3 separate regions of the Homo sapiens genome follow, and regions 1 and 2 are each linked to region 3. The links come from fine-mapping of genetic effects on gene expression. A gene starts in region 3. Each other region holds a variant in brackets. All regions are shown on one strand. Distances are from middle to middle.

Region 1 (2,761 bases), 120 kb before region 3:
TCCCGAAGTGCTGGGATTATAGGTATGAGCCACTGCGCTCGGACCTTCTTTTTTTTTTTTTGAAATGGAGTTTCACTCTTGTTGCCCAGGCTGAAGTGCAATGGCGTGATCTTGGCTCACCGCAACCTCTGCCTCCCAGGTTCAAGTGATTCTCCTGCCTCAGCCTCCGAGTAGCTGGGATTACAGGCATGTACCACCATGCCTGGCTAATTTTTGTATTTTTAGAAGAGATGGGGTTTCTCCATGTTGGTCAGGCTGGTCTCGAATTCCCGACCCCAGGTGATCCACCCATCTTGGCCTCCCAAACTGTTGGGATTACAGGCGTGAGCCACTGCACCCGGCCATAAGTCTTTTTCAACCAGGGCTAGATCCTCTTTCAGAGCCAGACTATTAAAATAGCCAGGAGAGTTTGGGGCGTTCTTCAATGTCATGCTTTTCCTAAAGGAATTTGGGGAGTGGACAAGGTCCTTTCCTCCTTATGATGTGTGTGTGTGTGTGTGTGTATTTTAGAGATGGGGTCTTGCCATGTTGCCCAGGCTGGACTTGAACTCCTGGGCTCAAGCGATCCTCCCGCCTCAGCCCCTTCCCCTCCCCAGTAGCTGGGACAACAGGTGTGAACCACTGTGCCTGGCTCCTCCCTGTGATATTTTAAAAGAGGGTTGGGGAACTTCGTCGTGCACCTGGATGAGAGCTGCAGGAAGGAGTTGTCTCAGATATGAAAGCTCAGAATGTAAATGACCTGCCAGGAAGCTGTTTTGACCTGAAACTGGGGCCTAATATGAGTCTCTAGCAAGACTCAATTAATGAAAGACATTTTTTAAACCATAGGGAAGTGAGGGGGAGGGTGGAGAACCCAAGGGAAAGGCGGCTAATGTAAGGGAAACTACTTCTCCTAAAAGACATTTCATATAAAACAAACCAAAACCAAAACCAAAAAAAACAAAAAACAAAAAAAGGAAAGAAAAAAAGCAAGGACTGCCAAGACTGCCTCTTTCTTATTCTTCCAAAAGCTCCAGCTCCTGAACTGTGGATTCTAACCAAGGTGGGTGGAGCACAGCTTGCACTGCAAGGGAATGAAGCCAATGCGAAGGCCCAGAGGGAAGGGAAGCGTTGTCAGAGTCTGGTGGTAAGCTGAATTCTGTGCCTGTTTAAATGGGGTTGTCCTTGTGGTTGCGGCATTTCCCTTCTCAACTTCAACAGACAATCAGTGGCATTACCCAAAAGTGGAGACGCATTGAGGACAGCACAGTTACAAGTGGGCATGAGTTTTTATTCTCAGTGCACAGCAGTATTGGTTTCTGTTCATCAGCAAAAAGCTTTATTGGCTCCAACAAATTATCCCTTTTAAAACTCCTCTTCTTCTTCTGGTCTCAGTGGAACAACACATTTGAATTTCAGATTTGCAGTTTATAGCATTTTTTTTCCCTAAGAACCATATAAATACATGCAAAACCTTGTACAT[A/G]GAGCTTAAATAATATCAAAATGCAAATATAGATTGGGTGCACTGTTAAGCTGAATTGCAAATTATGGCAACACACACTGGACTGGGGTATACGTTGCTTTGATATCACCATTTGTTTGTTTATGTCATGCAGACCACAATAGTCAATCTTTTGTTTTTCTTTTTTGTACAAAAATACCAGTGCTTGTTATACTAGTTACTAAAAGAAGAAGAAACTCAAAATTCCTATCTGCGTGCTAATTTGAAAAGAACAACGTAGATAGATTTGTTGGCACATATATATGGCATATTCACATATGGCATATATACATATGGGGAGAAAACATGAACCAAAGGCCAATTCAGTTATGGGAGCTCATCTCCTTCCATCTCTCCTAATCAAGAGCAAAGGGAACAGCAGGCCTAACAGCAGGGTTGGGAAGGCAAAAGGACTGGCACTGAACTAAGTGAAAGGGCGTCTGGTCTATTCAGAGGAAGAGGCTGGAATGGCTTAACAATAGCAGGCATTTATAAGTGCCCACCCTCACCAATGCATCGGGGGTGGTCCCTAGATATGAAAGGTGAGGAAGTCTCTGCATACTGTGATGGTACCACGGGCTGCTTCAATTGTAAGGCAAAGGAAGCAGGAAAGAAAGGAAGGGATGCATTTAGAGGCTTTTCCACACAAGCGAGTGTGCCACGCCCCTCTGGGTTTTCAGCAGTGAGGTAACCATTCAGATTTAACCATGCCAACTCTCCTCTCTGAAGCTCAAGGGGAAGAAGAAACTCAAACCCTAAAGAACCCACAAGTGTCCAGAGGGATTTCTAGGTGATCTCTCTCTTAACCCCTTTAGGGACAGGAGAGTCATTCCAGAGGACAGATGATACTATGGGAAGGATCTAGCCTTAAGACTGTCACTCAGGGCTAGAACCAGCCATTGTTTTATCCATTTAGAATTCTGTCCCCATTTAATATATTGCACAAAATCTTTCTAGGGGAGGGAAGGCATCACAAATAAGATCCTTGCACAAAAACTCACTAATGGAAAACTCCAGGGGGAACAGGAAATAAAAACCATGAAAAATGCAAACCCCAAATCAGAGTATCCTTATAGACCAGGAGATATTCGTGTCTTTTATACCACTCTGCCAGCTATTCTTCAAGAAACACAAATCCAACAGAGGCCCCTGATCCTAATGACTAGTCAGGAAAGATTCTGTCTATCCATCTGCATGGTGGGGGTTGGGGGGAAGATTCATTTCCTGACAGCTGTGTCCCTTGCTGGGTGTTTTCCTGACTATCCACAGTTTACTACCCGT
Region 2 (2,761 bases), 77 kb after region 3:
ACTACTAAGTTCTTTTTGCCCAAGGGTTGAAACCAAATACAAGTCGCAACACTTTATCATATTGGAGTCAGCTGTTAAGTTTCTGTTCCCAAGATGTGAGGAGGAGCAGTGTCTTACTCATCTTGGTCTCCTCAGCATCTAACCCAGCAACTGGCATAGAGTAGGACCTCAATCATGTTTTCAAAAAATTAATAAATGACTCCCTGGGCATGGAGATGAGCAATGTAGTGCACATTTGACTGATCTGATTTCTTCTTTTTTAAATCATGAATGTATTTCTTTTTAATTATTTTCGTAGAGACAAGGACTTGCTATGTTGCCCAGGGTGGTCTTGAACTCCTGGTCTCAAGTGATCCTCCCACCTTGGCCTCCCAAAGTGTGGGGATTACAGACGTGAGCCACCATGCCCAGCCATGATTTGATTTCTTGACAGAAACTCACCAAACATCAGGAATCTTTTCCACCAGCTCACTGGAAAATCCTGAAACTTAGAGAATCTCTCACTCCACAGCTGGCCGGAATGGAAGGCAAGGTTGTGGTTGGGTTACTGGTTTTTGCCCAGGTAGGAAAGTAAGGGAGCCTTTATGATAAGGATCATGGTCGCTGAAACAACCATGGTTGCTTCAAAAGTAGCCTCCTTGCATTATGCAGTTTTTTTAAAAAAAACTTTATTTTTAGTTATTTCTTAGAGACAGGATCTCACTCTGTTGCTCAGGCTGGAGTGTAGTGGCATGACTATATCTCACTGCCTCCTTGAACTCCTGGGCTCAAGTGATACTCCTGCCTCAGCCTCCCAAGTAGTCGGGACCACAGGCACACACCACCATGCCCAGCTCATTTTCAAGTTTTTTGTAGAGACAGGGTTCTGCTATGTTACCTAGGCTAGTCTTGAACTCCTAGGCTCAAGGGATTCCTCTGCCTTAGCTTTCCAAAGTGCTGGAATTACAGGTGTGAACCATTGCACGTGGCCTGTGCAGTTGTTTTGATTTCCTTTCTAAACAGATGAGAATGAAATATGAGCAAATCCTGTTGGGTCCTTCTAAAGAGGCTCTGGG[A/G]AGATGGCACTGGCTCTGTTTGTCTATGCCCAGGACAGCTCCTGGAGAGCAGTGGGGAAGCACAGGAAAGGGTCCCTGCAAGGCATGCTCAAGGTGGTGCTGTCAAGAACAGTGGAACTTGGCTGGGTGCAATGGCTCACGCCTGTAATCCCAGCACTTTGGGAGGCCGAGGTGGGTGGATCTCCTGAGGTCAGGAGTTCGAGACCAGCCTGGCCAACATGGTGAAACCCCATCTCTACTAAAAATAAAAATACAAAAATTAGCTGGGCATGATGGTGGGCGCCTGTAATCCCAGCTACCTGGGAAGCCGAGGCAGAAGAATCACTTGAACCCGGGAGGTGGAGGTTGCAGTGAGCTGAGATAGCGCCACTGCACTCCAGCCTGGGCAACAAGAGTGAAACTCTGTCTCAAAAAACAAAACAAAACAAAAACAAATTCCAGCATGTCCTGCCTGGCCTTTGTCCTGTCATCCCCATTACCCTGACTCAGTATTCTCAAAAGCCTGGAATATAGTTGCCTTCTAGTCTCAGGTTACACCAGAGCGGGGCACCTGGATGCATAGCACTCCTCCACCCCACCCCCACCCCATAGACTTTCAGGAAAGAGGAGTCAGCTTTCAGCAGGACTGCCAACCTGTCTGGAAGGAGGGAGGACAGCAAGCTCTGTAGCATCCCTAGAGAGTGGTTGCCCAGTCTCCCAAACTGCAGGGAGACAGCTCTCTCTCTCTCTCTTTGCCAGAGGAAGAATGAACTTCTGTCACCCTCTGCACTCAAGGAACTCCATCACCTCTAAATTATTTGTGTCAACCACTGAAGTCCAAGGAGAATTTCAGAGCTGGGAGAATTTGTTTGTATTTTCACAATTTATAATGCTCTTTTTGTCAGACCAATTTGCCAATACAAAAGGATGGCCTAACATACCATTATGGAGAGAGGAAACACAACAAGCAAACTAAAGCTTTTGCAACATCAAAGTGAATATTATCTTTGGCAAAATGTAAGAGAGATGTGGGGAAATAAAGGCTGCTGGGAAGGTTCTGTTACTAAGGGGTTTGTCAGCTGATCCCCGAGGCCCCTTTTGGCTCTGAAGTTCTGGAGAATTAGATTCTTTCCTACATTTATTCTGCTTTCTCTGTCCTTTTATCGCATGTGTTTATTTCACCAGCTTTGTTTCTTCTATGCTCATCACATTTGCATGCTGATTTTTCTAACAATGATAAGGAAAGTCTCTCTCTGAACGGAAATTTTGATAGCACAATGGGTGGACAGGACAGTTGTGATTTGTAGAAATGTTTCCTCACAGCTATCTTACCTGCATGAATATTCTTGCTGGGACTTCCTAGGGAGTGTGTCTTCTTGTCTTCTGTTCCTTGAATAATAACCTGATCATTTACTGACATGTTGACCTAAAAATAAATTCCATATCACTTCTCTCTCTCATTAATGATGTGTCAACTGTTATGCTACGAGATGCAAATATGTTATCTCATTTAAAATTCCTTTTTTTTTTTTTTTAACCAAGTCTCACTCTGTTGCCGAGGCTGGAGTGCAGTGTCGCCATCTCGGCTCACTGCAACCTCCGCCTCCCAGCTTCAAGTGATTTTCGTGCCTCAGCCTCCTGAGATTACAGGTGATCACCACCACGCCCAGCTAATTTTTTGTATTTTTAGTAGAGACGAGGTTTCACCATGTTGGCCAGGCTGGTCT
Region 3 (2,761 bases):
AACTTTTCAATTCACCCTTCTCCTTCCTCCCCTTTGGGACCAGAGATGTGTGGGGCGGTGCCCTCGGAGACACTCATACAGTTGGTTCTGGACGCTCACACACACTCAAACAACAGCGGTACGAGGTAACTCCCAGCTTTTTCCACAGCTAATTATACATGTGAAAGTCTGAGGATGTTTTGCAAGCAGCACAGAGAAACTGCTGAGGTTTCTCTGCAAAGCTAAAGAAATTTAATTCGTGCACTCTCCTTCCCCACTCCTGCCAACTTCTCCCAGCCCACCTCCACCCCATGGCCCCAAAGTGCCCCTCTCCTAGTTCCCGCTGCAGCCCCTCTTTCTGCTGAAGATTTCTTTGGTTCCTTTTTTTTTTTTTTTTCCATCTCTCTTTTGGGCTTTCGAGAAAGGGAACAGACACGGAAAATATTTTTGCAACAGTTTTCCATCCTGCGTCTCATTCCCAAGCCAAGGGGGGAAGGGGAGGGCAGGAACGGAATGGGTTGAGGGAGGGGAGATAAATATTTTTTCCAAGAGCTCAATTTTGGTGTCAAAAAGAGAACCCTCCATTACCCTACCCCATAGCCCAGGAATGACAAGAACTAGGAAAAGAGAGATAAATCACTTGTTCGACTATATGGTTTCTCAGAACTGATAATAGGTAAAACAGTATTTGACAAATCTGTGCACACACACATATTTTAAAAAAAATCCTCCAAACCCAGTCGCATGAAATATTCTAGAAAGAGGAAAATCGGGGAGTTTTAGAAGCCATTGAGAGAAAAGAAAGAAACAAAGTTTGCAAATCACAAGTCAATTCATTCTCTGCAAGCCTACCTCTCTTTCTAGCAAAGATCCAGGTTTCTTCAGGCGGGACTCTCCCTCCGGGTTTCCATGGATGAGGGTAGGGTGGGGTGACCACCCACCAGTCTCCCCAGTGTGGCAACCAAGCTAGAGACGCTGGCTTTGCTCTCTTGCCTTTCTGGCTAAGGCCGGGGAGTGGGCTGGGTCTCCTCCCCCTGCCCCTCCAATGGGAAGGACCTCTCAGGTTCCTGAAAGAAAAAGGGTGCAGGAGAGCTGGGCGGGTGTCTCTGATCTTGCTCTCTTCGGAGGGATGGTGCCCCACGAAGTTCGTGCCCCCCCTCCCAGCCCCCAGCTTTGGACGATCTCAACAGCAGAGCTTTCTTAAGAAAATGCTTGTCATGGCAACAGCTCTAGCTAACTCGGGCCAGACTCTTGCTCACCAGCTCTCCCCAAGCAGTGCGGGAAGAGAGAGGGGAGGAGCAGGAGCTGGAACAGAGGTGGGACTTGGCGCGAGGCCAAACCATTACTCTACTGTTAAGGTGGCCCGATTCTTGCGGTTACTTCCTGGTTCGTCTTAAGGGGGAATGGGAAAAGAAAGGGAAGCAATCCTCTCCCCTGTCGGCTTTCTTCCCCGCCCTTGCTCTCACTTGTTGAATAGAAAGCTGAGTAGGGGTGGAGGAGGGGTGAGGGTGGAGGTGGGGAGTGGATGTGGGTGGCGGTATTCAACGGTTGCTGGGCGGAGGGGAAAAAAAAGGAAGCTTGGGCAGGCGGCTGGCTTCCTGCAGCTCCTACGGGCCTCTCAACCCCTTACTCACTTAGATCCAGGACCCAGAAACCCGAGGTGTCTGTGGACACTTGTATGTCCCCTCCTACCTTCCTGCTCCTGTCTGAATAGGGGGTTCCTTGGAGAAGGAGAATAAATTGTTTTGTAAACACACACACACACACACACACACACACACACACACACACACACACACCCGTCCTCCCCTACACCTTATATACAGGTCACATTTTGTTCCCTCTTGTCCCTGTACCCACCAGAGGTATACTGACAGTGCATGAAAATAGCTGCTTACTTTTGAGTCCTGCTATGCGTGGGCTATGACACCAAAAGCTTTGTCTATATGGTATCGTTTCTAGTCCTCATTTAATCTTGAAAGGTACTTATTATTAACCTCATTTCCTAGTTGAGGGAATTGAAGATTGAGTGTCTGGCCCAAGGTTATACATCCGGCTAATGACAGAGCCAACGATTCAAGACCAAGTCAGACAGACTCCAAAGCCCGAGTACTTTCCTGTACTTTGTATCATACTCCGGCACATATTTCCGTTTTAATTTGCACACACTCAGACATCCATGCACACTTATACACAGCCTGTAAACAGTTAATCACACCCCCATACCCACACACCCACTAGCATTGTGCAACAGTGCCACCCATAGATTTTGCATAGAACTTTATGGCTTTCAAGCACAAACATGCACCATCAGCTGGTTCACACAACATATCTTCATTGACTGACAGATTCCCACACCTACCTCAGCAAACACACTCATGTTTATATGCTTATGGAAGGCACATTGACATATGTCTCACAGGTTATAGCTATGAGCTATGCTGTGAAGAAGGTGACTGGCCACTACTTCCCAACCTTTTAAACAGAGGGTTGGGAAAAGGCCTCTTTGATCCTATCATTCTAACCCAACAGCTCACACCACCCCCTGTCCTTCTTTGCTGTCATCTCTGCCCCCAAGAAGCAGAGCCACATGTGCATGGAGAAACAGGGTTGTGAAACGGGGTCCAGTTTCCCCCGTGTCCAACTAGCACCCTTCCCAATGTTCTCTCATTTGGGTCCTCTTTTTCCTCTTCATTTTCTTACCCTGCTATTTCTTTTTTCTTTATGGTTTTTTTTTTTTTTTTTGAGACGGAGTCTTGCTCTGTTGCCCAGGCTGGAGTGC

Alleles and levels. Positions count from the first base shown, and alleles are read on the strand shown. Sizes are in standard deviations (SD) of each study's normalised expression. Not every link is listed here.
For the expression in esophagus mucosa of the gene that starts at base 1,219 in region 3, A is the high allele of the variant in region 2 and G is the other (small effect, 0.27 SD a copy in GTEx).

What was found.
Region 1: its variant is fine-mapped to the expression of ATP2B4 in whole blood (TOPMed, PIP 0.98).
Region 2: its variant is fine-mapped to the expression of ATP2B4 in esophagus mucosa (GTEx, PIP 0.92).

The regions. Positions count from the first base shown.
Region 1 is chr1:203,742,570-203,745,330 of GRCh38, reverse strand. ATP2B4 (ATPase plasma membrane Ca2+ transporting 4) reads right to left here. Exons shown (of 21, transcript NM_001684.5): 21 at 1,250-2,761. It overlaps LOC102723543 (a long non-coding RNA gene), which reads left to right and starts at 772. Exons shown (of 2, transcript XR_426890.4): 1 at 772-1,126. The variant A/G (reference allele first, on the strand shown) is at 1,463.
Region 2 is chr1:203,548,361-203,551,121 of GRCh38, reverse strand. No RefSeq gene overlaps it. Among named protein-coding and RNA genes, the nearest start is that of OPTC, 56 kb to the right of the region's middle. The variant A/G (reference allele first, on the strand shown) is at 1,056.
Region 3 is chr1:203,625,290-203,628,050 of GRCh38, reverse strand. It overlaps ATP2B4 (ATPase plasma membrane Ca2+ transporting 4), which reads right to left and starts at 1,219. Exons shown (of 21, transcript NM_001684.5): 1 at 832-1,219. RefSeq lists enhancers at 478-1,350, 1,351-2,225.